4 linked regions of the Homo sapiens genome follow. The main gene of each other region encodes a partner of the protein of the gene in region 2 in a complex. Each region holds a gene or a part of one and is shown on either strand. Other genes may lie near its edges. The genes, in order: HUS1, RAD9A, RHNO1 and RAD1. A codon is read from its position in the direction of its gene.

Evidence for each region.
Region 1: the proteins of RAD9A (region 2) and HUS1 are in contact, whole or in part, in a crystal structure (PDB 3GGR), measured with the Homo sapiens proteins. Residues at the interface, in NP_004575.1 of Homo sapiens: Leu157, Pro158, Pro161, Val176, Ala186, Lys191, Ala192, Met193, Val194, Thr195, Glu196, Met197, Cys198, Leu199, Gly200, Asp203; in NP_004498.1 of Homo sapiens: Thr84 (codon at 1,920), Asn87 (codon at 1,911), Arg90 (codon at 1,902), Ala91 (codon at 1,899), Lys93 (codon at 1,893), Thr94 (codon at 1,890), Phe110 (codon at 1,842), Ser121 (codon at 230), Ser123 (codon at 224), Ser126 (codon at 215), Arg127 (codon at 212), Ile128 (codon at 209), Val129 (codon at 206), Thr130 (codon at 203), His131 (codon at 200), Asp132 (codon at 197), Ile133 (codon at 194), Pro134 (codon at 191), Ile135 (codon at 188).
Region 3: the proteins of RAD9A (region 2) and RHNO1 are in contact, whole or in part, in a crystal structure (PDB 8WU8), measured with the Homo sapiens proteins. Residues at the interface, in NP_004575.1 of Homo sapiens: Val41 (codon at 2,324), Ser44 (codon at 2,315), Arg45 (codon at 2,312), Ser46 (codon at 2,309), Ala47 (codon at 2,306), Tyr48 (codon at 2,303), Glu130 (codon at 1,264), Leu132 (codon at 1,258), Gln133 (codon at 1,255), Ala134 (codon at 1,252), Val135 (codon at 1,249), Glu165, Tyr181, Glu183, Thr216, Phe217, Cys218, Gly244, Pro246, Val261, Leu262, Ala263, Thr264, Leu265, Ser266; in NP_001239428.1 of Homo sapiens: Thr88, Lys90, Phe91, Pro92, His93, Leu94, Thr95, Phe96, Glu97, Ser98.
Region 4: the proteins of RAD9A (region 2) and RAD1 are in contact, whole or in part, in a crystal structure (PDB 3GGR), measured with the Homo sapiens proteins. Residues at the interface, in NP_004575.1 of Homo sapiens: Leu76 (codon at 2,219), Ser82 (codon at 1,488), Val83 (codon at 1,485), Ser86 (codon at 1,476), Leu90 (codon at 1,464), Lys92 (codon at 1,458), Leu112 (codon at 1,398), Phe116 (codon at 1,386), Gly117 (codon at 1,383), Val118 (codon at 1,300), Arg119 (codon at 1,297), Lys120 (codon at 1,294), Thr121 (codon at 1,291), His122 (codon at 1,288), Asn123 (codon at 1,285), Leu124 (codon at 1,282); in NP_002844.1 of Homo sapiens: Glu165 (codon at 889), Ala166 (codon at 892), Ser168 (codon at 898), Glu169 (codon at 901), Asn195 (codon at 3,176), Ala196 (codon at 3,179), Gly197 (codon at 3,182), Ser198 (codon at 3,185), Ser199 (codon at 3,188), His200 (codon at 3,191), Leu201 (codon at 3,194), Asp202 (codon at 3,197), Tyr203 (codon at 3,200), Pro204 (codon at 3,203), Asp206 (codon at 3,209), Ser207 (codon at 3,212), Glu211 (codon at 3,224).

Annotation. Positions count from the first base shown.
Region 1 is NC_000007.14:47,976,605-47,984,420, forward strand, and holds the start of HUS1 (checkpoint protein HUS1), read right to left. Parts: upstream 3,012-7,816; 5' UTR 2,916-3,011; coding exon 2,864-2,915; exon of another isoform or gene 2,806-2,863; intron 2,213-2,805; coding exon 2,085-2,212; intron 1,990-2,084; coding exon 1,813-1,989; intron 234-1,812; coding exon 126-233; intron 1-125. UniProt on the Homo sapiens protein: Component of the 9-1-1 cell-cycle checkpoint response complex that plays a major role in DNA repair. The 9-1-1 complex is recruited to DNA lesion upon damage by the RAD17-replication factor C (RFC) clamp loader complex.
Region 2 is NC_000011.10:67,387,959-67,394,992, reverse strand, and holds the start of RAD9A (cell cycle checkpoint control protein RAD9A), read right to left. Parts: upstream 3,008-7,034; 5' UTR 2,949-3,007; coding exon 2,915-2,948; intron 2,833-2,914; coding exon 2,762-2,832; intron 2,752-2,761; exon of another isoform or gene 2,478-2,751; coding exon of another isoform or gene 2,340-2,477; coding exon 2,211-2,339; exon of another isoform or gene 1,504-2,210; coding exon of another isoform or gene 1,498-1,503; coding exon 1,383-1,497; intron 1,303-1,382; coding exon 1,203-1,302; intron 1-1,202. UniProt on the Homo sapiens protein: Component of the 9-1-1 cell-cycle checkpoint response complex that plays a major role in DNA repair. The 9-1-1 complex is recruited to DNA lesion upon damage by the RAD17-replication factor C (RFC) clamp loader complex.
Region 3 is NC_000012.12:2,880,221-2,887,238, reverse strand, and holds part of RHNO1 (RAD9, HUS1, RAD1-interacting nuclear orphan protein 1), read right to left. Parts: intron 2,078-7,018; exon of another isoform or gene 1,957-2,077; 5' UTR 1,873-1,956; coding exon 1,705-1,872; intron 1,437-1,704; exon of another isoform or gene 1,342-1,436; intron 1,287-1,341; exon of another isoform or gene 913-1,286; intron 262-912; exon of another isoform or gene 128-261; intron 1-127. UniProt on the Homo sapiens protein: Involved in microhomology-mediated end-joining (MMEJ) DNA repair by promoting recruitment of polymerase theta (POLQ) to DNA damage sites during mitosis.
Region 4 is NC_000005.10:34,905,498-34,912,515, reverse strand, and holds part of RAD1 (cell cycle checkpoint protein RAD1), read left to right. Parts: intron 1-703; coding exon 704-962; intron 963-3,159; coding exon 3,160-3,258; intron 3,259-3,567; coding exon 3,568-3,751; 3' UTR 3,752-6,921; coding exon of another isoform or gene 6,922-6,985; 3' UTR 6,986-7,018. UniProt on the Homo sapiens protein: Component of the 9-1-1 cell-cycle checkpoint response complex that plays a major role in DNA repair. The 9-1-1 complex is recruited to DNA lesion upon damage by the RAD17-replication factor C (RFC) clamp loader complex.

The sequences.
Region 1 (7,816 bases), on a different chromosome or scaffold from region 2:
AATCTAATGTTTTCGTTAAGTATCCTTTAAAAATAAAATATACTGCAAGACTACAACTAAAACTAGAGAATTCAAGTCATGCCATTTAATGTGGGGTGTACAGCAGGACTGCAGGCATCACCTACATCAGGATCTGGGACCACCGGTTCTTGTAAGTCCTTCCACAATTTCCTAGGAATCACCTTTATGGGGATGTCATGGGTCACAATGCGGCTACTGCTTGACATAGATAACTGCCAAGAAAAGAATTTAAAAATATTTTTATGTTGTTAATATTAAGCAACAACAAAACAAACCCGAAGACCCGGGACAAAAAAGTTGAAATACCAAATCTAAGTGGAATGCTGTCAGTTTATTCACTCAAAAGCCATTCGACCAATATTGATGGTGCCAATATTTATGGAACAGACTCTGGGTACTTCCAGGAACTGGGAAGTGTGGTGATAAGACAAAAAGGTCCTTAGTGTTCCAGTGGAACAAACAGATCAATAAAAATGCAAACAAATGAAACTGTATGAAATGCTCATTATAGCCGTGAGAAAGCACTCCACAGAGACCAGGGTGAGTGTGGGGGAGTTTCCTTAGACTGAGGAGGTGACATTTCAGATACCACCAAAAGCAGGAGAAGCAGCAGCCATGGGAAGACAAGAACAAGGGGACAGGGTTTCAGGCTGGGGAAACAGCACATGTAAAGCCGTGAGGCAGAAAGAAGCAAGCCTGCTATGTTGACGCAACCAAGAGAAGGCCATTCTTTGGGCATAGGACACTCAGAGTGCTGCAGTTTCTAACAGTTAAAAGGCAAACTATATTTATTTCTAGGGGCTCCTATGAGACTCACAGACCAAAATATCTTGCACTTTTGGACAAAAAGTATTATACGTTACTATCTTGCTTTTCCTTAAGCAATAGAAAAAACATACCAAACTTATACTGTGACATGAAATGCCCTAATTAGCTCTGAGAACTGCCTGACTGCAAAGAGTTGAGAGTTATGAAGAAAAGCTGGGCTGGGCGCCGTGGCTCATGCCTACAATCGCAGCACTTTGGGAGGCCGAGGTAGGTGGATCACTTGACGTCAGGAGTTCGAGACCAGCCTGGCCAATATGGTGATACCCCGACTCTACTAAAAAAATACAAAAATTAGCTGGGTGTGGTGGTGGGTGCCTGTAATTCCAGCTACTCAGGAGGCTGAGGCATGAGAATCGCTTGAACCCGGGAGATGGAGGTTGCAGTGAGCCGAGATCGCGCCACTGCACTCCAGCCTGGGTGATAGAGAGACTCCGTCTCAAAAAAAAGGAAATACGAACCTCATTCTATGAGTAGGAAGAGCAACTCTGGATTGTATGTATGCGCATGAGTTTGTGTATTTGTGTGTTTGGAGGACAGCTGTGCACTAAATTCATCTGGCAGTAGCATATAAAACATACGTGTACTGAAGAACGAGGGGCCATTTAAAGGTTATTATAGCAGATGAGGCAGGGTGGGAGTGGGGAGAAAACATGTCAAAGGTGAAAATGGATAGAGAAACCATGATTTCTAGACAAGGTGACAATACCACTACAAGAAACAGAGAGGCTGGAAGTTTCACGGCTTGGAAAAAGCAGCATTCTAGCTGAATGCATATGATAACAACACAATTTTAAAATGAGGAGGAACTGACTCTAATGCAAAATATAGTTATGGACCAGATCTTTAAATTTAAATAAACCAAACAGCTTTCAACAGTATTTATTGTTAAAAAGGCTAGGCTAACTATGTCTATTCCTTCGAGGCCAAGACTTCTGTGTTAGAAACCCTGACTCTCCTACTCACCAGCTCCACGGAGACCGTGAGGCAGGGAAAGTGTTTATTAGTCAGTTTGATTTTCAAAGCCCTGGCATTCTGGGCAGTCTTCAAGGCTCGAGATAAGTTTTCCGATGTTAGCTCTAAATAAATCTCATTGTTTTCTGCAGAGACACCCTCCATTTGAAATTCGTTGAAGAAGTTCTCCTAAGGGAAAAAAAATGAGGGATGAGGGAGGGTATATGTGATCTTTCCAGTGACAATCTGCAGAGTGTGCAGGCCTCTCAGAAGCTTTTGCTCACCTGTTCCAGCTCACACCACATGCTCACTCCTCCATTAGCCAGCTTGTCACAAAGGATGAAGTTAAGCTTATCAGGGCTGATGCGGAGGGTGCAGGTTTTGGCAAGCTTGGCTATCATGTTACTGATTCCTAAAGCAGGGGTTAAAATAAGGAATTACTAAAATGCACATTATGTATCCTAGAGACCAACTTATTTTGCAGAATTTCTTGTTCATCAACTTCTCGGTGGAAAAATAACCACTTAACGTTGGTATCACACTGGAAAGTACTTTAATACCCCTGATGTCACGCAATTCTCCCAACAAACTAGGGGAGATGTACAGCACACATCATCAGTGTTCAAATAAGAAAACAGGCACCTACCAGTCATTCATTCATTCAACATGGATTTATTGACTACTAGGTACTGCAATACACAGTTAAATGCAAGGTTAGGCACTGTCAGGGTGGAGGGACGAATGGGGCCTTGAAGGTATGTCAATGCCTGATAAAGCCGTCTATGGGAGCAGTGGCCGCTTTTTTTTAAAGCCACGTGATCGGAATCAAGTTTCAGAAACGTCCCTTGAAAGCCGCCTTCATCCCCACAAGTGCCCTCCGACCCGCCCCGCGCCCTCCCGGCCCCACCCTCCCGCGGCCTACACCAGCACCCCCATCCCGGCCCCATCCTCCCGCGGCCCCTTCCGGCGCCCATCCCCGTTCTGATCCTCCTGCGCGGTCCCCACCGCGCGCTCACTGCTTCCTTCCGTTCCTCCCTCGCTCCTCTCCGGCCTCCCTGCTCACGTGTGAAGTGGTTCAGACAGGCCCCGTCCACGATCTTGGCCCGAAACTTCATGGCCGCGGATGGCGCAGCCGCGGCGGGCCTCTGTGGGTAACAGAAAAGCGTCGCGCCCTGAGTGTCCCCGCCCGGAAACACGGCAGCGCGAACAGTGGTTCCGCCCGGCTCGGGCTACGCGACTCTTACCAGGGTTATCTCCGGGCCACGCCCCGGAGGAGGTGGGGCTAGGGGGTCACGCCCTAGAGGAGGTGGGGTCACGGGTCAAGGATCACAGGTCACGCCCCGGGGGAGGTGGGGGTCCCAGTCTCCGGGTATGCCTCCGCGCTGCCGGGTAATGGTGGGATCTACTTTTAGTGAGGCGGAGGCTTCAAGCCCCAGATTCGGGGAGGTTGTTCTGAGAATTCACGTTTTGAAAGAATTTTGTGACACCTATTTCAAGTGTTATTTTAAAATATCCAAATAAAATTAATCGTTTATAAAGGTTAAACAATATTATCTTAAATATACCTAAGGTAGAGCAGCTTTAAACCCTCCAGCCTCAGATGACGGTACTGGTACTTTGGTATTGAAGCATCTTGGTGGATTAAGGTTCTGAAAATTGTTTCAAATGACTTCTAAAAAAATTGAACATATTACTGGCTAGTTGGTAAAGTCGGGAAGCTTAAAGAACACTGACGTTAAGTGATAATTCTGCAGTTTGCCTCAAGACGAACTTTATTACATCCGATAAAATTCTTATTAGCATAAATAATGTCATTAGGATTTTTTTTAAAGGAAAAATTTTAAAGGGGGAAATGAAGCAACAATTGTATCTAATTTGGTTTTTCAAAGACTAAAGATTATCTGTGTTAACAATTGTTATTTTTAATGTCCTTTGCAAATAGACTAGAACCTTGTCTTTAACTTGACACATAGAATCAAGATAATGATAATGCAGATGATGATGATGATGATTTTGAGACGGAGTCTGGCTCTGTCGCCCTGGCTGGAGTGCAATGGCGTGATCTTGGCCCACTGCAACCTCCACCTCCCGGGTTCGAGGGATTCTCCTGCCTCAGCTTCCCAAGTAGTTGGGATTACAGGCACAAGCTACCATGCCCGGCTAATTTTTGTATTATTAGTAGAGACGGGGTTTCGCCATGTTGGCCAGGCTGGTCTCGAACTCCTGACCTCAGGTGATCTGCCCACCTCGGCCTCCCAAAGTGCTGGGATTATAGGCGTGAGCCACCGCGCCAGGCCCAGATAATTTTCAAAGACACATGCACACATATGTTTATTGTGGCACTATTCACAATAGCAAAGACTTGGAACCATCCCAAATGTCCATCAATAATAGACTGGATAAGGAAAATGTGGCACATATACACCATGGAATACTATGCAGCCATAAAAAAGGATGAGTTCATGTCCTTTGCAGGGACATGGATGAAGCTGGAAACCATCATTCTCAGCAAAATATCACAAGGACAGAAAACCAAACACCGCATGTTCTCACTCATAAGTGGGAGTTGAACAATGAGAACACATGGACACAGGGAGGGGAATATCACACACTGGGGCCTGTTGGGGGGTGGAGGCCTGGGGGAGGGATAGCGTTAGGAGAAATACCTAATGTAAATGATGAGTTGATGGGTGCAGCACACCAACATGGCACATGCATACCTATGTAACAAATCTGCACGTTGTGCACATGTACCCTAGAACTTAAAGTGTAATAATAATAAAAAGGTGCAAAATACAAAAATTGCAGTTTTTGCCTATTTTAAGACTATAACATGAAGCAAAATTCTAATCTTCATTGTCATATGCGAGTGTTTGCCAAACCAAACTTAATAGATCACTTTCAAAGTTATGCCAACAGGCAGGGCAGGATGGCTCTCTCCTGTAATCCCAGCATTCTGGGAGGCCGAGGCGGGTGGATCATCTGAGGTCAGGAGTCTGAGATCAGCCTGGCCAACATGATGAAACCCCGTCTCTACTAAAAATACAAAAATTAGCCCGGCGTGATAGCTTGTGCCTGTAATCCCAACTACTCAGGAATCTGAGGCAGGAGAATCACTTGAACCCAGGAGGCGGAGATTTCAGTGAACAGAGGTCTGCCACTGCACTCCAGCCTGGGCGACAGAGCGAGACTCCGTCTCAAAAAAAAAAAAAAATGTTGGCATAACTCTTTTTTTTTTTGGAGACGGAATCTCGCTCTGTCGCCCAGGCTGGAGTGCAGTGGCGCAATCTCGGCTCACTGCAAGTTCCGCCTCCCGGGTTCACGCCATTCTCCTACCTCAGCCTCCCGAGTAGCTGGGACTACAGGCGCCCGCCACCACGCCCGGCTAATTTTTTGTATTTTTAGTAGAGACGGGGTTTCACCGTGTTAGCCAGGATGGTCTCGATCTCCTGACCTCGTGATCCGCCCGCCTCGGCCTCCCAAAGTGCTGGGATTACAAGCGTGAGCCACTGAGCCCGGCCATGCCAACATTTTTTATTTGCCCCATATGATCTGCAGGAAAAAGCCTGTTTTTTAATTTCCTCATGAATGAGTTTTGAAGAGTTGAGCATCACATTAAATAAAGTGGCTGCTAGTAGATAAATGAATATAATTAAAGAATGTATCTAAATAAACTTTGTAAACAATGTTTTGTAACATCTTGATCTTTAGTGTAAATTGCTTAATTTTATGTCATAAAAACTGATAAAGCAATTTTTTAAACTTCCTAAGAAGATGTGATATGATACATTCTGCATGGACAAAAGCCCAAATAATATAGGAATTTGACTCAAGAAATAGAAAATAAAGCTGCAATTATCTTTTCTTGGAAGAAGAAAGGAATCTTTTATGTGCTCTTGCAATTTTCTTAAACAGGTTTAGCAAATTAATTCATTAACTTCAGAATTGACAATTAAGTATATTGACACTACTTCTCTACTTTCCAAATGATTTTGAGGCAAGGAATGTGATCTCTAGAGATTTCTAGAAGCCCCATGTACCACTGAGTTTTCTAATGCAATGTATATTCATGTTCTCATCTAGCTACAGTAAATTGCCTTCTGACTTAAGAACTGCCAAATGTCAGGGATTAGTAATTCAGTCACACAATGATTTGGGAAACAGTGTTCACGCTGTTCATTAAGTTTGTTTAGTGGGGAGGTAAATGCCTTAATCTTGTCTTAGAAACTGAAATAAACAGTGGTGCAAATAAAATGTCATTCAGGATGCATATAGTTGGAAGTAAGGGAAATAACCTCTCTACAGCTGCAGATGGTAAACTCTGTCTAGGTAAGTATTTGGCCAGTCTCTTTCAGGTACTTACTCATCTTCTCTAGTCCCTGGGGGAAGAGACAGCAATTTGCAGCCCTGTTGTTAGCAGTTAATGTTGGAAAAATTACCCAAGGGAAACAACGTGACTAGCTCACATGTTACGCATCAAATTTGAAAGGCAGTATTTGTCTTCTTTTTTTAACATGAGAAAACTGTAAAATGAAGGAAAGCATACCCTAGAGGTGGCATGAGTGAATGTCTTTTGACAACTGTACTTGTTCTAAGAGATGGGTTTTTGCTTAAGCAGCTCTTCAAAGACTCTTCTCCTCTTTTAGGTGTCAAAAAAATTCTTCAATAAATTCCATAGATACTTTTCTAAATGAAGATTTGTGGAGCACATGAGAAGTGTCAGGCATGGTGGTGAGTGATGGGGATTAAGGAAGGGGACCAGCCCCTACTCAAGAGGAGGGTGATCAACATTTATTGGATGCCTTTAAAGCACTATTTAAATATTATTGATCAGTAGGGTGAGATAGATAGCTCTCATTTTATAGCACTCTGCACTGATATCATCACTTAGATAATATAAACACACGTAAAATAAGTATGATTATTCCCATTTTATTTTATTTTATTTTATTTTAGATGGAGTCTTGCTCTTGTTGCCCAAGCTGGAGTGCAATGGTGCAATCTCGACTCACTGCAACCTCTGAGTCCTGGGTTCAAGTGATTCTTTTGCCTCAGTCTACCGAGTAGCTGGGATTACAGGCACCTGCCACTACACCCAGACCATTTTTTGTATTTTTAGTAGAGATGGGGTTTCACTGTGTTGGCCAGGCTGGTCTCAAACTCATGACATCAGGTGAGCTGCCTGCTTCAGCCTCCCAAAGTGCTGGGATTACAGGTGTGAGCCACAATGCTCGGCCTATTATTCCCATTTTAAAGATGGGGACAGATAGAATTGGCAATGTTGGCCATGGCATGCCCTACCTCACACTCTTGATGAGAATCTGCATCACTGGATTGCTGAGTGTCCAGTGACCCACATGCTCCTGCTGACTGGACCAGCTCTATTTACACTTGACCTTCAGGAAAACAATTGATAGTGTGGAAATAAATGAAGACCAACCAAATGGAACAGGCAAAGCCTATTTATTCAGAGTCAGCCATTATCACTTGCATTTCAGCAGAGACTCAAAGGCAGGCAGAGAGGTAGGAACGCTTCATAGTGGAAAAGGAAGGAGAGTATAGTGAAGTAACAGAAGAGGTTACAGAGCATGTTTATTTACCAGCTAAAGCTAAAGTGGCAAAGGAAGGAGAGGTTCATCCCTACCCTTCTGCACCCCCTTATTTCCTCCTGGGAAATATTACTGATGAATAACATTTTATATACGGCATTTTGCACATGGTAAGTTTTTTAGTCAAAGGATATATTCATCTCGATTTTTATAGATAGGCCAAGTTCCCTCCATAAATGTTATACCTATTTGCATTTCTTCCAGCAACGTGTGAGAGATCCTGTTTCCCCAAAGCCTTGGAATAAAACATTATCAAACTTTTGGATCTTTCTAATTTCATCAGTGAAACATGGTACAGTATAATTTTTGCCATTTTTCTTAAGTAAATAAGCTTGAATATCTTTCATGTGCGTCTCTAGATGATCTGTTTACTGGCCATTTTTCTATTGGGTTATTGATATTATAAT
Region 2 (7,034 bases):
ACTCCAGCCTGGGTGACAGAGCGAGACTCTATCTCAAAACAAAACGAGAGAAACAATTGCTCATTTTTAAAAAAAGAGACTGAGTGTGGTGGCTGACGCCTGTAATCCCAGTACTTTGGGAGGCTGAGACGGGCAGATCACCTGAGGTCGGGAGTTCAAGACCAGCCTGACCAACATGGAGAAACCCTGTCTCTACTAAAAATACAAAAAATTAGCCGGGCATGGTGGCGCATGCCTGTAATCCCAGCTACTCGGGAGGCTGAGGCAGGAGAATCACTTTTATCGGGAGGCGGAGGTTGTGGTGAGCCGAGATCGTGCCATTGCCTGGGCAACAAGAGCGAAACTCTGTCTCAAAAAAAAAAAAAAAAGACACCACCCTAAATGCAGACCAAGGAATTGGCCCCCGTCTCTCACTACCCAAAAGAGCTCTGAGCAGTGCTGGCTCAAAAGAACCTGGGGAAACAGATGTCAGGACCCAAAGGGATCTTCAGTCACCCTGAGAAATGAGCAGGACCTTGGGCCACTTGAATGCAAGCAGTGACCAGCATGGAGCAGGGGGAGAGCCCACTCCTCTCTGAGCTGGTCCTCGCCAGGGACGTTTGCTTCAACTGGAGTCCCCATTTCCCTGGCCCCAGACAGCCCCCAGTGCTCGGACTGCCCAGAACAGCTCCACCCCATAGCTGATTATTCAGCCTCCCTCCAGCCTCCTGCCCTGGCCTTGGGGACTCCTCGATCCTGGGCAGTCAGGAAAAGAGGCTGCCGTTGAATGGGGAACACCTCTGGAAGGATGCCCAGGCCGGAGAAGGGGTCTGAGCCTCTGAGCCACAGGTTATGGGCAGACCTTCAAGGTTACTCAAGCCAGACAAGAGATTTGGTGGCAGGCCAGAAATGTGCTCCCTAGAGGAGGAGTTGGAATGGGTTTGAGCAGCCAGAAAGTCAAGTCAGACCTTTGGGATGGAGAATGCAGGCTCCTAACAGTAAGGAGAATGGAGCAAGGAGGCGCCTGCCCCTCCTCCATGCCACCGTCTGCCTTTAAAGAGCCAGGTAAGGACCTGAGCACATAGCGGGCCATGGGATGTCTTTGAGGTTCACAGAAACTCTGTAGGGAAAATGAAAGAGGTACCTTCTAAAATCAACCCCTTGGGGCCCCAAAGAAGGAAGAGAGAGACCCGGGGCTGAGCTGAGGGCAGGGGTGTGCTCACCGTGCTGGGGCGCGGAGCATGTGGGGGCACGAGGCTGGGTCGAAGACGGCCTGCAGGGACTCACAGTCCTGGAAGGACAGGTTGTGAGTCTTCCGCACCCCTGGATGGGCGATAGGGTCTCAGTGGGCCTCGCCGACCTCCCTGCTGAGGCACCCCTTGGCTGGCCGGCTGCCCACTCACCGAACTTGCAATGCAGCTGGACCACCAGGCGGCTGCTCCGGCCATTCAGGGAGATGCAGCATTTTTCCACCGTCTTCTCCAGCATCGCCAGTGAGCGGAAGACAGACAGGAAAGACTGCATGGGATAAGACACCTCAGCCTAGCATCACATCTCTGCAACAAGCTCTCCTGTCCCATGCAGGCCCACACCCATCATGGGCCCAGCATGTAACTCTGGGAAAAGGGCTCCCACGTCACCTCGGGCACTGGCATCCTTCTAGGCCTCATTCATGCTCTTCCTTATGCTTGGAATGCCTTGAAAGACCTGCTTACCTTTTTTTTTTTTTTTTTTGAGATGGAGTCTCGCTCTGTCACCCAGGCTGGAGTGCAGTGGTGCGATCTCAGCTCACTGCAACCTCCACCTCCCGGATTCAAGCAATTCTCCTGCCTCAGCCTCCCGAGTAGCTGGGATTACAGGCGCGTGCCACCACGCCCAGCTAATTTTTGTATTTTTAGTAGAGACGGGGTTTCGCCATGTTGGCCAGGCTGGTCTCGAACTCCTGACCTCGTGATCCGCCTGCCTCGGCCTCCCAAAGTGCTGGGATTACAGGCGTGAGCCACCGCGCCCGGCCAAAAGACGTGCTTACCTTTCTTGACGAACTTGAGCGTCACCACCCTCTCAGGTCCCCGCTGTGATGCTTTTACCATGGCCCTCCCTGTGTTTTGCATGGATTGGGCTTGCACGTGTCTCTCTCCCCACTTAGCATCTACTGAGTACCCCAGGGCAGAGGCACAGCTGGTGGAGATTCCTGGGGTGGAGTAGTGCCACTGCTGAGGGAAGGGCCTCACCTTCATCAGGATCTTACAGCGCAGCAGGTCCTGACCAGGGGTGGCTGCCTGGTATTGCTGGAAGAAGAGCGGGGCAAAGAGAAAGCAGGCATAGGCAGAGCGGGAGGAGTTCACCGTCCGGAGGGAGAGCTGGGCCACGAAGAGCAGGGAGAGGGACGTGGTCAGGGGGCAGCCACAGACCCAGCCCTCTGGCTGCTTCTGCTCACACACTTGCCCTATCGTCCTCCCGCTCCGCCACCACCTGCTGAAAAACCCTCCTTTCCCCATGGAAGCCTTCAGAGTCGGCCCCGGCGCTGCTGCCGCAGAGGAGGGGTCGCACACCCAGGCCTTCCCCGAGTTTCTCTAAGTGCACGTCACCCCCTGGGAGCTCGCAGGACAGCTTTCCTCAATTCACACACCGGCCTGGGAAGATGACAGCCGCCAGACTAAGAAACTGAAACTTTGCCGACAAATCTGCCAGCGGTCATCCCGCCTAGTGGGGGCGAGACTCTAGTCCGGGTTACCCGCTCCCGGCTGGAGTCCCACCCGCCCCCCACACCCTAGCCCCTCACCCCGTCCTCCAAGGGTTCCAGGTAGAGCTCGTCCCCGATGCGGGACAGGGAGTGGACGGCCTTGCCGAGCACTGCGGGGAGAAGAGCGGAAGGGGGTTAGGCTGGCGGCTCCGCGGCTGCTGCACCGCCGCTGCCAGGCCGACCTGCACTCACCCTTCACGTTGCCGCCCGTGACCAGGCACTTCATGCTGCCCCAGCGCTCCGCCAGCGGCCAACACTGCCCAGCTCTCCGCGACCTCCGGGTCCGGGGTCCCTTCCCGCGCACCGCCCCTGCCGGCCCCGCCCCCGCCTCCCCATTGGTCCACGTGCAGGCGCCTCCGTCACGTGAGAAAAACGCTCACAGGCTCTGCCGTCACGTGACGGCGCACGTTGTCCGGGGTGTCACGTGACCGGGGAGGCCCGCGGCGCCCGCCAGCCAGCTGCTCCTGGCTCCCCCGGCACGCCTCGGCCTTCCGTGCCCCTGGAGATCGGGGCGTTCCGCGGGCCGCGCACCGGATTGCGAAGGTCAGAGAGGACGCAGCTGTGGGGCGCGAGGTCCCTGTGCAGTGGACCGAGTGCTGGACTCGGAGTCGGAGTGTGGGGGCGAGCTCTCTGGGGTCACCCACTTAGTAGAGTTCCCGGGCGTCTGCCGGGGGATACAGGGTGCAAGCAAGACCATCGCACCCACTCTGGGCCTGAGACTCGGACTCCAGCAGCAATCCCCAACTCTAGAAAGAAGTCAAAGCAGCTTGCTTGCAGCAGCCGGGAGTGGGAGGTGGCTGCTCCTTCCGGCTTCGAGGATCCTTTAAGGAAAAACGGCAGTTTCTCCAGGCAGAAAGGGGTAGAACGGTGCCCCTGGCAGAGGGAAGAACAAGAGTAAATGCTCAGCGGTGTGGGCTCCGCCCCCTGGAGAGGGGAGTAGGTCTGTGAGTCTCAGAGAGGCGTAGGGGCCGCCAGATGATGAGGGGCACCGCTGGGACGCTCTGGAAACGTTTTACGAGGGTAGATCGTGGTTATGTGCCTTTTTTTGTTTGTTTGTTTTTTGAGACATATTCTTGCTCTGTCACCCAGGCTGGAGTGCAGTGGCGCGAACACGGCTCACTGCCGCCTGGAACTCCTGGGCTCAAGGGATCCTCCCATCTCAGTCTCCTGAGTATCTGGGACCACAGGCACACCCACCACGCCCGGCCCTTTTTTTTTTTTTTTTTTTTTGGGTAGAGACGGAGTCTTGCCATGTTGCCCAGGCCGGTCTCAACTGTGGGGTTCAAGCTGTCTTTCCGCCTTGGCCTCTCAAAGTGGAGTGAGCTACTGCACCGGCCTGTTTTTTGTTTTTTGTGTGTGTGTGTGGGGTTTTTTTGTTTGTTTGTTTTGAGATAGAGCCTCGCTCTGTCGCCCAGGCTGGAGTACAGTGGCACGATCACGCCTCCCAGGTTCAAGCGATTCTCCTGCTTCAGCCTCCCAAGTAGCTGGGATTACAGGCGCCTGCCACAACGCCTGGCTAATTTTTGTACTTTTAGTAGAGACGGGTTTCACCATGTTGGCCAGGCTGGTCTCGAACTCCTGACCTCAAGTGATCCGCCCGCCTCGGTCTCCCAAAGTGCTGGGATTACAGGCATGGGCCACCGCGCCCAGCCCCGGGTCTGTATTTTTAAAAGACCCCAGACTGGCCGGGTACGGTGGCTTACGCCTGTAATCCTACCACTTTGGGAGGCCGAGGCGGGCGGATCACGAGGTCAAGAGATCCAGACCATTCTGGCCAACATGGTGAAACCCCGTCTCTACTAAAAGTACAAAAAGTAGCCGGGCATGTTGTCACGCGCCTGTAGTCCCAGCTACTCTGGAGGCTGAGGCAGGAGAATTGCTTGAACCCGGAGGCGGAGGTTGCAGTGAGCCGAGATCGCGCCACTGCACTCTAGCCTGGCAACAGAGTGAGACTCCATCTCAAAAAAAAAAACCAGACTGTGTGCCAGGTGGGGATGCATCAGCTGGAAGGTATTCCCCTTCCCCTGGGCTTCCGGGTCCACGTGTGTAAAATGTAAGGGAGTCCTGGAGAAACTCACTGACCCCTACTCTCCCCACAGTACCAAGGCTCTGGTAGTTCTTGGAAGGGCCCAGGGCATCCCTGTATTCCTGCAGGGCCTGCCCGTGCCTTGCCCCTCAGGTCCTGTGGTAGTGCAGAAGATATATTTATCTCTGCCACCCTTGCTCTCCAGACCCACTTTCAAATGAGTTGAATTGATACATAATAATTGTACACATTTGGATACATGCATACACTTTGTTTCTCCCTCTCCTTCCCTTCTGCTCCCCTCGTCACCAGCCCTTGCCCCTTCCGTGGAGCCTTGGGGGAGGAGGTTACTCTTCCCTTCCCCTTCCCGGGGGATCCATGGAAATAGTGCCCCTGTCCCTGGGCATCCGGCTCAGTATGCTGGAGTCATCCTTGACCTCATGCTCGCCCTCACCCCTACACAGTCTTTCAGTTAAGTCCTGACCACTCTGCTTCCCAAACAGGTGGCAACTTAACAGGTGGCAACTTTGCCCTCCTCTTCCATCTCCAAGGCCTAGGCCACCATCCTCTCACCTGGATGACTGTAACAGCTCTCAGTGGTCTCCTGCCTCCACCCTGCCCCCTCCAGGCCACTCTCCATACAGCAGCAAAGTGACCCTCCTAAAATGTCCATTGTGTCATGCCTCTCCCGTGTTTGCACACTCCAGTGGTTGCCATAAAATCCAAACTCTGCCCTGAACCTGCAGGAGCCGCCGCCACCCATTTCTCCACCTGTGGCCTCCCCTTGATCACCTGCACAGCCATGCCAACCCTGTGGGCTCCCTGAACCCTCCACTTCCTTTTCCACCTGGGGATTTTAGCACATCCTTAGCTGTCCCCACCACTTGGCATCGTCTTACCCCTTCTAACGTGGCGGTGCTTCTCTTCCTCCAGGCTCAGTGCCGTCTTTTCTGCCCCCACCAGCATCCCATTACACTCTAGCTAGACCCTGTTTTAGCCACAGCACTTATCACGTTATTTCATGCGTGTGTTTGCCTGTTTAACATCTGTCTTCCTCACTAGTGTGTCTGCCTCACAAGGGCAGGAACCATGTCTGGTTTTTGGTTTTTTGTTTTTTCTGAAGACAGAGTCTTGCTCTGTCGCCCAGGCTGGAGGGCAGTGGCGCGATCTCGGCTCACTGTAACCTCCGCCTCTGGGGTTCAAGCAATTCTTGTGCCTCAGCCTCCCAAGTACCTGGGAATACAGGTGTGTGCCACCACGCCCGGCTAATTCTTGTATTTTTATTAGAGATGGGGTTTTGCCATGTTGGCCAGGCTGGTCTCAAACTCCTGACCTCAACTGATCTGCCCGTCTCAGCCTTCCAAAGTGCTGGGATTACAGGCGTGAGCCACTGCACCCGGCCTTGGCTTTGTTTTGTTTGTTCTGTTTTGTTTTGTTTGTTAAGATGGGTTCTTGCTTTGTCACCCAGGCTGGAGTGTAGTGGCACGATCATAGATCACTGCAGCCTCAACTTCCCAGGCTCAAGCGATCCTTCCACCTCAACCTCCCGAGTAACTAGGGCTACTGGCGCATGCCACTACAGCCAGCTAATTTTTTAAATGTTTGTTAGAGACAAGGTCTCCTTCTGTTGCCCAGGCTGGAGTTGAACTCCTGGGCTCAGGCGATCCTCCTGCCTTAGCCTCCCAAAGTGCTAGGATTACAGGCGTGAGCCACCACACCCAGCATCCATGTCTGTTTTGTTTGTTGCTGTATGTACCTCACACAGGGTCTGGCACTCAGTAAATAATGAATAAATAGGTGTTACATTTAAAAATGTGTAAACCAGCCGGGCGCGGCGGCTCATGCTTAATCCCAGCACTGTGGGAGACCAAGGCTGGTGGATCACTTGAGCCCAGGAGGTGGAGATTGCAGTGAGCTGAGATAGCGCCACTGCACTGCAGCCTGGGTAAGAGAGCCAGACCCTTTCTCAAAAAAAAAAAAAAAAAAAAAAAGTAGGCCGAGCGCTATGGCTCACGCCTGTAATCCCAGCACTTTGGGAGGCCGGGGCAAGTGGATCACCTGAGGCCAGGAGTTTAAGACCAGCCTGGCCGACATGGTGAAACCCCATCTCTACTAATAATACAAAAATTAGCCAGGCATGGTGGCACGTGCCTGTAATCCCAGCTACTCAGGAGGCTGAGGCAGGAGAATCGCTAGAACCTGGGAGGTGGAGGTTGCAGTGAGCCAAGATCGCGCCACTGCACTCCAGCCTGGGCAACAGAGTGAGATTCTGTCTCAAAAAATGAA
Region 3 (7,018 bases), on a different chromosome or scaffold from region 2:
TCCAAAGTGCTGGGATTACAGGCATGAGTCACGGCACCCAGCCAATTTTTATATTTTTAATAGAGTCAGAGTTTCACCGTGTTGGCCAGACTGGTCTCAAACTCCTGACCTCAAGTGATCCACCCACCTCAGCCTCCCAAAGTGCTGGGATTACAGGCGTAAGCCACAACACCTGGTCTAGATATAACTTATTTATCTTTAAACTTCATGAGGGTAGGGACCAGTGGTCTTGTTCTTGATTCCCAGCACCTAGCAGAATGCCTGGAACAAAGAAGGCCCTCAGTTAATGAATAGCCAACTCCAAGCATAGCGGGTGAGAACTAGCAGAGGACCTGGCATATAATGAATATTCAATAAATGTTCATTCCTACTCTCATCCACAGGATTCTGATGTTTAGGTTTCTTCCACAATCCTGTAGCAGGTATTATGGTTCTTCCAAGCAGTCCTGAATAAGTTACATTTATTAAATACTCCTAAGCCAAGCTTATGCTTTTGTCTGGCCCTTTTACTATACTACTTTCCTGTTGTATAGTAGCTATATTCTCTTCCCAGGGTTTCTATTTTTTTTTTTTTTTTTTTTTTGAGACAGGGTCTCACACTGTTGCCCAGGCTGGAGTGCAGTAGCACAATCTTGGCTCACTACAGCCTTGACCTCCCGGTTCAAGAGATCTGCCCACCTTAGCCTCCCAAGTAGCTGGGACTACAGGTGCGCACCACCATGCCCAGCTAATTTTTCTATTAATATTTTTAGTAAAGATGGGGTTTCACCATGTTGCCCAGGCTGGTCTCGAACTCCTGGGCTCAAGCAATCCTCCTTCCTTGGCCTCCCAAAGTTCTAGGATTACAAACATGAGCCACCACACCCGGCCTCTCTTCCCAGGGCTTTTAAGCGGTCAAAATATGACATATGCTATTCTTATGGGGTTTTATTTTTCAAGGTTCAATCCATTACACAATAAACAGAGTATCTAGCCAAGTACTCCACCTTTCACATGAAGTTGAGGGAACAATCTCATTTTTAACTTGTTCTGCCATTTATCTGGCATTCTCACCCAGCTAATGGGTAAAAAAACTTTTACAATGAACTCTTTCAGAGGAAAATAGGGGAAGAGAAAGACTCCAGTTCCAACTAACCCGTTCCTCAGTTTGAACTGAGAAAAGAAGATGTACCAGGGAAGATGGCTGGCCACAGACAGAATACATTAACTCCTTGCCCCCGCCCCCATGAATCTTATTCTTTGGAGTCCCTGGTTCAAGGGGCAGAAGAGTCAGCATTCTGGAAAACCTAACAGAGTAAAAGTCAAAGTAGGCCGGGCAGAAGAGTCAGCATTCTGGAAAACCTAACAGAGTAAAAGTCAAAGTAGGCCGGGCGCGGTGGTTCACGCCTATAATCCCAGCATTTTGGGAGGCCGAGGCGGGCGGATCACGAGGTCAGGAGATAGAGACCATCCTGGCTAACACGGTGAAACCCCATCTCTACTGAAAATACAAAAAAATTAGCCGGGCGTGGTGGCGGGTGCCTGTAGTTCCAGCTCCTCGGGAGGCTGAGGCAGGAGAATGGTGTGAACCCAGGAGGCGGAGCTTGCAGTGAGCCAAGATCGCGCCACTGTGCTCCAGCCTGGGCGATAGAGCGAGACTCCGTCTCAAAAAAAAAAAAAAAAAAAAAAAAAAAAAAATGTCAAATAGTAATCCCATGGGCCTACCCAGGAAGTGATGGTGCTGTGGTCAATGGGCTTGCTGGGCACCTGTCGAGTGTGAGTGATGGGAAGCTGTGTAGATGCACAGCTGTGTTTGGGGCCCTCCAGTGGTTGTTGGTGGAACAGCAGCGGGGCTTTCTGGGAAGGCTGGCGGCGTTTTTTTCTGGGAGGCATCAACCGGTGAATGAGGAACAGTTAGTAACCACATGATGCTGTTAGCCTTCGGGTTGGGGGATAGGCTCCAATTCCAACCCATGCCTGTAGAGAAGAAACAAAAGCTGGGAGCAAATAATTCAGATGATTCCCCAGTTCTTCCTGATCCTCTGCCAGCCAATTCTACCATAAACTTCAAGGCTTTGGGGAGCACAGCCTCCTATACCTACAACCACCAAGCAAAACACAATATTCATATTCAACATTCATCTAACGAACATTTATTGAGTATGTGCTAAGTGTCATGCTGGGTGCTGGGAATTTAAAGATGAATAACCATTTATTCAACAATCATTAACTGAGTGCAAAGCACTTGTAGTGATACAGAGGTCATCCCTGTTTCGAGGAGCTGAAAGTCTAGCAAAGGGAAACAGACATTTACAACACTGTATGAGAATACAGTATGGTTCCATTCATTCCAAAGGAGGCTTTCTGGAAAGGGAGATACCTGACCTAGGTATGAAAGGCATAGAAGAAACAAAAAAGCAAGGAGGGCACTCCAGCCTGAGGAACAGTGTACACAAAGGCATGGAGACGAGACGGAGTATTGTGAATTCTGGGAATTACAAATTCAATGTATCTGGACACAGTATGAGAAGATAAATGGCAAGAACTCAGGATAAACATGGTGTCAGGCTGAGGTTAAAAAAAAAAATAGGTGACATGGCTGGGTGAGGGGGCTTACGCCTGTAATCCCAGCACTTTGGGAGGCTGAGGCAGGCGGATCACCTGAGGTCAGGAGTTTGAGACCAGGCTGGCCAACATGGTGAAACCTCGTCTCTACTAAAAATACAAAAGTTAGGCTGGGAGTGGTGGCTCACGCCTCTAATCCCAGCACTTTGGGAGGCTGAGGCAGGCTGATCACTTTAGGCCAGGAGTTCAAGGCCAGCCTGGCCAACATGGCAAAATCCCACCTCTACTAAAAATACAAAAACTAGCTGGGCGTGGTGGCACATGCCTGTAGTCCCAGCTACTCAGGAGGCTGAGGATCACTTGAACCCAGGAGATGGAGGTTGCAATGAGCTGAGATTGCGCAACTGCACTCCAGCCTGGGCAGCAGAGCTAGACTCTGTCTCAAACAAACAAACAAACAAAAAAGATTAGCCGGGTGTGGTGGTGCATGCCTGTAATCCGAACTACATGGGAGACTGAGGCAGGAGAATCGCTTGAACCTGGGAGGTGGAGGTTACAATGAGCCGAGATTGCACCACTGCACTCCAGCCTGGGAGACAAAGCGAGACTCGTCTCCAAAACAAACAAACAAACAAATAAAAAAAAACAGGTGACACCATATGAGTTTGGACTTTAAGCAGAAGAATTTGATCCCACCTGGCTTTTAAAAAATTTTTCACTCCAGATAATGTCAAATATATACTAAAGTAGACTGAATAATGTAATGGACCCTGTGTACCAATTATCCAGCTCCAATAACTGTCGGCTAGGCTAATCCTGACCCATCTACACCCCTAGCCACTTCTTCTATCCCTGGATTATTTGGAAGAAAATATATTTGGCCGGGCGCGGTGGCTCATGCCTGTAATCCCAGCACTTTAGAAGGCCGAGGCGGGTGGATCACCTGAGGTCGGGAGTTCGAGACCAGCCTGACCAACGTGGAGAAACCCTGTCCCTACGAAAAATACAAAATTAGCTGGGCGTGGTGGCACATGCCTGTAATCCCAGCTACTCGGAGGCTGAGGCAGGAGAATCGCTTGAACCCGGGAGGCGGAGGTTGCGGTGAGCAGAGATCACGCCATTGCACTCCAGCCTGGGCAACAAGAGTGAAACTCCGTCTCAAAAAAAAAAAAAAAAAAAAAAATATATATATATATATATATATATATATATATATATTCTATCCTTCCCATTAATATGACTAAACAAATATATAAATTCTTTAACATTAACAAATATCCAGCCAGCCAGTGTTCCCATTTTCTTTTTTTTCTTTTTTTCGAGATAGGGTCTCATCTGTTGCCTAGGCTAGAGTACAGTAGCATGATCATGGCTCACCACAGCCTTGACCTCCCAGGCTCAGGTGATCCTCCCACCTCAGCCTCCCAAGTAGCTGGGACTACAGCTCGTGCCACAGCGCTGGCTAATTTTCGTATTTTTGTAGAAATAGGGTTTCGTTGTATTGCCCAGGCTAGTCTTGAATTCCTGAGCTCAAGCTATCTGCGCACCTCAGCCTCCCAAAGTGCTGGAATTACAGGTGTGAGCCACCACACCCCAGGTTTTCTATGTGTTTTTTTTTTTTTTTTTTTGAGACAGGGCCTTGCTCTGTCACCTAGGCTGGAGTGCAGTGGTGTGATCATGGATCATTGCAGCCTCAACCTCTAAAGCCCAAGCAATCCTCCCACATCAGCTTCCTGAGTAGCTGGAACTACAAGCAAGCACACTGCACCTGGTTAACTTTTTTTGAAACATTTTTTATAGAGATGAGGTCTCACTGTGTTGCCTAGGCTGGTCTCAAATTCCTGGGCTCAACCAATCCTTCCCTCCTTAGCCTTCCAAAATACTGGGATTACTAGCAGTTCTTTAGATAGGCCTTCCCTAATAACTATGTCTAAAATAACAGTCAACTCAACCCCTTGACCTGTTTGATTTTTCTCTATACTTTTATCTTTTGAGACGGAGTCTCACTCTTTCGTCCAGGCTGGAGTGCAGTGGCTTGATCTTGGCTCACTGCAACCGCCACCTCCCGAGTTCAAGAAATTCTCCACCCTCAGCCTCCCCAGTAGGTTAGATTACAGTCACCTGCCACAATGCTTGGCTAATTTTTATATTTTAAGTAGAGATGAGGTTTCACCATTTTGGCCAGGCTGGTCTTGAACTCAGTTGAGACCTCAACTGATCTGCCTGCCTCGGCCTCCCAAAGTGCTGGGGTTACAAGCGTGAGCCACCATGCCTGGCCCCTCTGGTAGCCTTCTAACTGAGTTCCCTGCTTCCTTTTTCCACCCCCATCTCCAACCCGACTTTTCTCACAAGGTGCCTAGAGCATCTTTTTTTAAAGTTTTATTTATTTATTTATTTATTTATTTATTTATTTATTGTAGAGACAGGGTCTTGCTTTGTTGCCCAGACTAGTCTGGAACTCCTAGGCTCAAGCAATCCTTCTGCCTCGCCCACCCAAAGTGTTGGGATTACAGGCATGAGCCACCACGCCTGGCCCAGATCAACTTTAATAAGGGCTTCTTTGGTGGAATGGTGGGACACAAGGTTGAATGCAATAGGTAGAGAGGTAAATGAGAGTTGCAGCTGAGCATGCTGGAAAGACACAACAGAGCAGGTTGGTTCTATGCATTTGTGATCCATTCAATCAACAACAAAAAATAATATGCTTTGACTTATATGACTAGGCAGTAGAGATACAGGTTAAGAAAAAAAAGGACACAGTTTCTCTTTTTTTCTTTCTTTTTTTTTTTTTTGATGGAGTCTTGCTCTGTTACGCAGGCTAGAGTACAGTGGCGCGATCTTGGCTCACCACAACCTCTACCTCCTGGGTTCAAGCGATTCTCCTGCCTCAGCTTCATGAGTTGCTGGGACTACAGGCGCACGCCACCATGCCTAGCTAATTTTTGTATTTTTAGTAGAGACGGGGTTTCGCTATGTTGACCAGGCTGGTCTCGAACTCCTGACCTCGTGATCCACCCGCCTCGGCCTCCCAAAGTGCTGGGATTACAGGCGTGAGCCACCATGTCCAGCCAAAGTTTCTATTCTTAAGGAACTAACATCTTATAGAAAACACAAAAAATATATATATCCATTTGTTCATTCACTCATTCATTCACTTGAGAAATATTTACTGAGTGCCTACTGTGTGCTAGGCACTGTTCCAGGTGCTGAAAATATATACCAGAGAATAACATAAAACCTCTGCCCTTGTGGTGCTTACATTCTAGTCGGAAAGGAATAAAAAGTATAGAGAGGCCGGGCGCAGTGGCTCATGCCCTTAATACCAGCAGTTTAGGGAGCTGAGGCGGGCAGATTACTTGAAGTCAGGAGTTCAAGACCAGCCTGCCCAACATGGTGAAACCCCATCTCTACTAAAAATACAAAAATTAGCCAGGCGTCATGGCACACACCTATAATCCCTGCTACTCAGGAGGCTGAGACAGGAGAATCGCTTGAACCCGGGAGGCGGAGGTTGCAGTGAGCCGAGATCACGCCACTGCACTCCAGCCTGGGCAACAGAGCGAGATTCAGTCTAGAAAACAAACAAACAAAAAGCTACCACAGAAATCCAGTGAAAAGATAACAGTGGTAGCAATGGCTATAGTTTTGAAATTCATGACTTGCTGAAAGTCATCAGCTTCAAATGGGTACGTTGCTCAGCAATCCTGTTTCCTTGATCAACTCATTCTCCACAAAGATTATCTTAAAACTTCTCCAAGCTAGGTGCAGTAGCTCACGCCTGTAATCCCAGAACTTTAGGAGGCTGAGATGGGAGGACTGCTTGAGGCCAGGAGTTCAAGACCAGCCTGGGCAACATAGAGAGACCTCGTCTCTACTACAAATTTAAAAGAATAATTAGCTTGGCATGTTGGCATGTACCTGTAGTCCCAGCTACTTGGGAGGCTGAGGTGGGAGGATCACTTGAGCCTGGGAATTTGAAGATATGGTGAGCTATGATCGTGCCACTGCACTCTAGCCTAGGTGACAGACAGACCCTATCTCAAAATAAATAAATAAAGTGGAAATTTTGTTTGTTTGTTTTGAGACAAAGTCTCACTCTGTTGCCCAGGCTGGAGTGCAGTAGCGTGATCTCGGCTCACTGCAACCTCCTCCTAGGTCCAAGCGATTCTCCTGCCTCACTCTCCCAAGTAGCTGGGATTACAGGCGCCCTCACCACGCCCAGCTAATTATAGTATTTTTTAGTAGAGATGGGGTTTCACCACGTTGGCCAGACTGGTCTTGAACTCCTGACCTCAGGTGATCTGCCCACCTCGGCCTCCCAAAGTGCTGGGATTACAGGCGTGAGCCACCACGCCCAGCCTGAACATTTTTATTTTAATTTTTAAAATTATTTTTAGAGATGGGGTCCTGTTCTGTTGCCCAGGCTGGAGTACAGTGACACGATCATAGCTCACTGCAGCCTCAAACTCTTGGG
Region 4 (7,018 bases), on a different chromosome or scaffold from region 2:
TCCACTATTATTAATTATACATTTTCTAATACAGTGTTCTCCAGCTAGTTTTTCACAGAAGCATCTGTCATCTTCCATTCCTCACTGTGGCTCTCAATCCAGTAAGGAGAAGGAGTTTGAATATCCTGTCATATTCCTCCTTCCCTCTAGTGGTTTGCAGAGTTAAAATTTACACCACCATTAACAACCCTCTTTTTCTCTCAATTTGATTTTTAAATTCGAGGAAATATAAAGAATATCTCCCAGTTGGAAAAGTTGGAAGGATCCTTGTCATAGTGAGTACACTGACGTTACAGTACAGATGACAGCAATCCACTGTTACACACATTGAACCTTCAAGGAATAGCATACCCTGTTCTGCAGCAATTTAGTTACTTGCTGTGTTGATCCATATAGATTCTCTACCCTGAAATTGTACATATATAAAATCAACAAGCTATTTCTGAGGTGTGTATGACAACCTGAAAATGATTCCAAAGAATTATGTTACATTTTGTTCTGGTTCCCAATTTTCTTGTAGTTTTGGAATTCTCTACACACAACTGTCATCAGGGAAGATGTCATCCCTTTTTATGAGGAGATACATATATGTGAGAAATTGGGCGGAATAAATTATTCTTGAGAAATTTTATGTATCATTTCGAGGAGAAGCTGAACCCAGAACTATAAAGCTAAGGCCAAGTATGACTTCTTTCCATTGCAGGGACTTTAACTGCACTTCGAATGTGTTACCAAGGTTATGGTTACCCTTTGATGCTGTTCCTGGAAGAAGGAGGAGTGGTGACAGTCTGCAAAATCAATACACAGGAACCTGAGGAGACCCTGGACTTTGATTTCTGCAGCACCAATGTTATTAATAAAATTATTCTGCAGTCAGAGGGGCTCCGTGAAGCATTTTCTGAATTGGATATGACGAGTGAAGTCCTACAAATTACCATGTCTCCTGACAAGCCTTATTTCAGGTACTTGAGAGCAGTGCAGTTATAGTTAATGTGGTCTGTACTCCATCTTCCCACTTAGACATTTGCTTAGGATGCAAAATTTTTATTATCCACATTTTTAGAGTTTTCACAACTTTAGACAGCTTGTACTCTTACCTCATAATTTTATGGATCAAGAAACTTAAGACCCAGGAAGATTAACTCACTATTTCATATTTAGGTGGTGGTGGCATCTAGATGAGAAGCCCAGTCCTCTAATTTATAAACTGGTGGTGTTTTCATTGTACTACTCCTTACTTTCATAGATCAGGTTACATCATGAGGAAAATTGGGTTTAAGTGTTTGGAAAGGGTGTTTGTATTATGGTATCTTTTTCAAGTTAGTTCAGGATGCAGAAGAAGATGTTTTCTACACGTGGCTCATTCATTCACTAAGTATCTGTTGATCACCTACCGTGTGCTTATTCATCTTATTAAGCATTGTGGGAAGAACAGCTTAAAACCAAGGTGAAGCCAAGAAAATGTGAAACAGCAAACCATTAAGTACCAAGATAGCACACACAGATACCTGGGAAATGCTGTATAAGGATTTAGGGAGGATTGCTCAAGGCTGGCTTCCCAAGGGAGGGCAGTTTTCAGCAGGAGTACAATGTCAAAAAAGCTGTTCTTGATAGTTTAACACAAGTCTCTTTTCAGGATTAGACTCAGAGATTCTAGCAATTTAGAGAGAGGATCTAAATATTCTCTTTTTGAAATATTTCAGAATATTAAAGCCCCTAAATACATATGGAATAAAAGGAATAAGGTATTCTTTTTGTAACTACTTTAGAAGAATTACAGGCCCGGCTGTAAAAGTGCTGTGGCAGACACCTGTAATCCCAGCACTTTGGGAGGCCGAAGTGGGCAGATCACTTGAGGTCAGGAGTTCAAGACCAGCCTGGCCAATGTGGTGAAACCCTGTCTCTACTAAAAATAGAAAAATTAGTTGGGCGTGGTGGCACGTGCCTATAATCCCAGCTACTTGGGAGGCTGAGGTGGGAGAATCACTTGAACCCAGGAAGTGGAGGTTGCGGTGAGCTGAGATTGCGCCACTGCACTCCAGCCTGGGTGACAGAGTGAGAATCTGTCTCAAAAAAAAAAAAAGAAAAGAAAAAGAATCACAGGCCCTTGTCATGACTTTGGGGAGTTAAAAATTTGGCTCAAGGTCTGAGAAAGTTAACCAAAATGGAAATTGGAAACCTTACTTTAGCAGTGGAATGAAGTAAAAAATTCAGGTACTTAAAACAGTATTTCAGGGGATCTCCTCAGTGATCTCTCTCAGCCTGGGTAACGAGATGGACCATGGTATCTTTCATCTCCAGGATGGGAAACAATTTGGTGGTAGGGAGGTAGGAGTTGAAATTTTTTCCTGGATATGTTAAATTTTAAGTACCTGCGACACTAGGGAGTGGCTGGATATGTAGTTATGGTGCTCAGGAGATCCATTTAGACTGGAAATTTAGATTTGGGAACCATCATCATGGCTGGGTATGGATGAGACGGGTCAGAGAGAGAGATTATATTAGAAGAAAGAAAAGATGGACCCCAGGAAAACCACACCTGGAAGATGGGAGGCAGAAATGGAGCTTAGGGAAAACCAACCTGGATCTTATCGCCATGCTCATATAATACTTAGCAACGTGCTAATCCTGCAGCAAATGTTCCAGGAGTTCTTGCAAATTAAATCAGCATGTTAACACTTATAAATTGTCTACAAATAACTTCTGGTATTACCAAGTGAGGAAAACCATGCAATAGCCTTAAGAGCAGTCTAAGATACAGAAAAGCTGTAATTCCTAGGTGTAGGATTGGGAACAGACCTAAGGGTTGCAGTAGACTTAGATCAAGGTCTTCCATGAGTCCTCAATTCTCTCGCCTGTTATATATTTCTGACTTAAGGATGAGGAAAAGTCATTTTCAGAGTAGGATTAGGGTAATGAAATTAAAGTGTCCCCTACCCTTTTCCTTTTACAATTGATTTTCTTCAAACCCATTGATTAGTTGTCCTGAACTCCAGTGGGAGCTTTATTATGGTACTTGTTATCGTGTGTTATAAGCATTTGTGTACATGTCTGTTTCACCCACTAGTATGAATTTCTTAAGGAAGTGTTTTCTTTATTTGGATCCTAATGTGGTTTATTTTTGGATGAATGAATAAATGAGGTAATCATTTTCTATAGGTTATCTACTTTTGGAAATGCAGGAAGTTCCCACCTTGACTATCCCAAAGATTCTGATTTGATGGAAGCATTTCATTGTAATCAGACCCAAGTCAACAGGTCAGTTCTTAATATAGAGGTTGTCATTGGTGATAAAGAGGAGGTTAAATACCAGATTTCTGTTAAATAAAAACACTTTCAATCTGTTAATTAAAATGCACAGCATTTTATAAAAATGAATAGTAGAGTGCTGGACTTACTAGGGGATGTAGGGTTCTAACAGTGAATGAATTTTAAAACAGAAAATATTAGCAAATTGGATAAGTACTTGATTTTATTCTTAGATTTGCTACTTTTTATCCTTTACTTGGGAGTTCTGAGCAGTGTTCACTGTGTTGATATAACAGCGTTTTATTTTTTCTTCTACAGATACAAGATTTCCTTACTGAAACCCTCTACAAAGGCATTAGTCCTATCTTGTAAGGTATCTATTCGGACAGATAACAGAGGCTTCCTTTCATTACAGTATATGATTAGAAATGAAGATGGACAAATATGTTTTGTGGAATATTACTGCTGCCCTGATGAAGAAGTTCCTGAATCTGAGTCTTGAGTATGACAATTCACTGATATTTATGTGTACATTTATGATAGATGAAGTTCTTATTCTGAGTACAGTACTCTTTGTCATTTCATATTGGATTTTCTATAGAGAAGAAGCACAATGGGGAAGATAGGAGCAAGGTCATGTACCCTAATAGTTACTATGTTTTGTAAATCCATTTTGTAGAGGGCATGTAAATAAATGTTTTCCTGTAGTCATAGATTATTCAGGACTGTCCTTTAGTTCTGTCTTTTGAACTCATGGGAATAATTGTGAGTCAGCGTAACATTTCAAGAGTCTAAAGGTGGCCGGGTGTGGTGGCTTTAATCCCAGCACTTTGGGAAGCCGAGGTGGGCGGATCACCTGAGGTCAGGAGTTCGAGACCAGCCTGACCAACGTGGAGAAACCCCATCTCTACTAAAAATACAAAAAATTAGCCGGACGTGGTGGCACATGCCTGTAATGCCAGCTACTCGGGAGGCTGAGGCAGGAGAATTGCTTGAACCCGGGAGGCGGAGGTTGTGGTGAGCTGAGATGACGCCATTGCACTCCAGCCTAGGCAATAAGAGCAAAACTCTGCCTCAAAAAAAAAAAAAAAAAAAGTCTAAAGGCTTAAAGTTTGATGCAGCTACCTGAAATGATCTTTTATTTATTTATTATTAGAAAAAGCAAAGGCATATGGGCATTGCTTATTAGTTTGAATTCTAGAGACTAGATCTTAAAGTAGTGGTTCTCAAAGTGTTGTGCCCGCACCAACATCAGAATGGCCTGCAAACTTGTAGCAAACTCTGGGGAGGAGGCCAGCATTCTGTATTTTAACAAGCTTCCCTCAGGAGATTCTGATGCCTGCTAAATTTTGGGAACCACTGTTTTAAAGGAAACTTTTTTTTTCTTTAATAGCATTTAATTGTATGAGATGATTGCTTTTACATGTGATTTCCTTGCAAATGTTCTGAAGTTGAGGCATCACCAAACAAGTCTGAACAATTCTTTATGTGATTTATTTTTAAAGTAGACCTTTTGAAGAGATCTATGAATGGGATATAAAGCAATTTTCAGTGTTACAGGTTTTCTTCTTCTTCTCAAAACTGTTTGCTGTAAGTAACTGCAATCAGTACTTACTACTTTCCATTTGCTTATGAGTTTCTTGACAAATCAAGGTGTAGAAAACCAGTTATTAAGTGATTTTGTACTTTCCTGGTAGTTGTCACTAAAATAATTTTTGTGGCATATAAATATATTTAATAAAATGCAAAAATTATCTTCCTGTCTAGTAGAAAAAATTACATGAGTAAAGTGAAGCTTCTGTCTTTGTTACTGTACCAGGTGACAACAGCTGAGTGTCCCTCCATGGACAGTCACTATTGGCCTTTTGAGTGAGACAGTTCTTTAGGATAAAAACCTGTCATCCCATTGCAGGATTCATTTAGCCTTTCTGGCCCTTACCCACTGATGCTAGTCATTGTGACCACCCCACCTCCCCCAAATAAAAGTGTGCCAAACTATTCATTGTTGAGAACCATTCAATTGTATTCACCAAAATTGGAGGATATATTGGAATGCCCTACCTTAATATAGGTCACATAGCATTAGAGAAAATTGGTTTGGAGAGTATTACAGCAAAGTGTGCTGCAAGGAGGCTACTCCAGCACAATGGCAGGCACTGCTTCCCAGGCATATGGACAATTCTGGGAGGTGGCCAGGGTCAGCACCTGATAACTAGTAAGTGTCTCAATCTCAGCATACAAAATTTAGCAGTGACTACAAAAGAAGTTGGAATTTTCTAAAATGTTTGTATTCAAGAAGGAAACAAATGAATTTACTAAATGTTGTCAGAGTATTTTTTGTTTAGATAACCACCAAGAACAGAACAAACCTAAAAGATACTTGGGAAAATATCTAATCAGTCAACATTCTAAGGACTGTTAAATGTGAAATAGCATAGTTATTTTTTGTCTTTTGTTACTAGTGTGAACAAAGAACGGCGCCTAACATATAATGGGCATTTAGTAACTCTGTTAGATGAAAGACTCTCCAATTTCAGATTTTCTTTTAGCATCTTATTAGTCACTACTTAATTCTGATGATTTAGCTCTAAATTTATTTTGATCTCAGTTTTTTTATTTTTATTTTTGGAGACAAGATCTTGCTCTGTTGCCCAGGCTGGAGTACAGTTGTAGGATTACAGTTCACTCCAGCCTCAATCTCCTAGGCTCAAGCAATCCTCCCATCTCAGCTTCCCAAATAGCTACGACTACAGGTGCATGCCTCCATGCCCTGCTAATTTTTGTATTTTTTGTAGAGATGGGGTTTTACTATGTTCCCTAGGCTAATCTTGAACTCCTGAGCTCAAGCAATCCACCCGCCTCGGCCTCCCAAAGGGCTGGGATTACAGGCGTGAGCTATCATGCCTGGCCTAATGTATTTTTTAAAAGTTGAATCTAAAAAGAATTTAAAACAAATATAAATCAGCTCAGTAAGGATGGATATTTTTGTACATTTAAAACTATTATTTTAGGCCGGGAGTGGTGGCTCACACCTGTAATCCCAGCATTTTGGGAAGCCGAGGCAGGGGGATCATCTGAGGTCAGGAAGTTCGAGATCAGCCTGGCCAACATGGTGAAACCCCTACCTCTACTAAAAATACAAAAATTAGCTGGGTGTGGTGGTGGGTGTCTGTAATCCCAGCTACTTGAGAGGCTGAGGCAAGAGAATCACTTGAAACTGGAAGGCGGGGGTTGCAGTGAGCCGAGATTGCACCATTGCACTCCAGCCTGGGTGACAGAGCAAGACTCCGTCTCAAAAACAAAAAAAATTAAAATAAAAATTATTGTTTTAGCTGCATGTCTTCAGCTATTTAGAATTCAAAGACTAATGAATTGTTTCTAAGTCACCCTAACATCAAGGTACTTATTTTATAAAGAATTTCCTCCTTATTTGTGTTCTAATTGACCCAGGAATTTTTACTTTAATAAAAGTTTAACTTTATTTCCTATGGAAAATCACTAGGGGGAGTGCTCCCTCAGGCAGAGCAGGCGACACTTTGGTGCCACTACAAATTGATGTGTAGTATATAGAAGAATACAGTCTTATATTTAAAGACTTTTAGTTCTGTCTTTTTGAAGTTTATCTCTCTTTCTAGTAAAATGGTGCTTACTGTGAATGGATAATCTTTTTTTTCATTTTTCATTTGTTGATTTCCCATTCGATGATGTAGTGCTTCCACCGAGAATTGATGAAATGCTTCAAAATAATAAAAGTATTTGTTAAATTCCA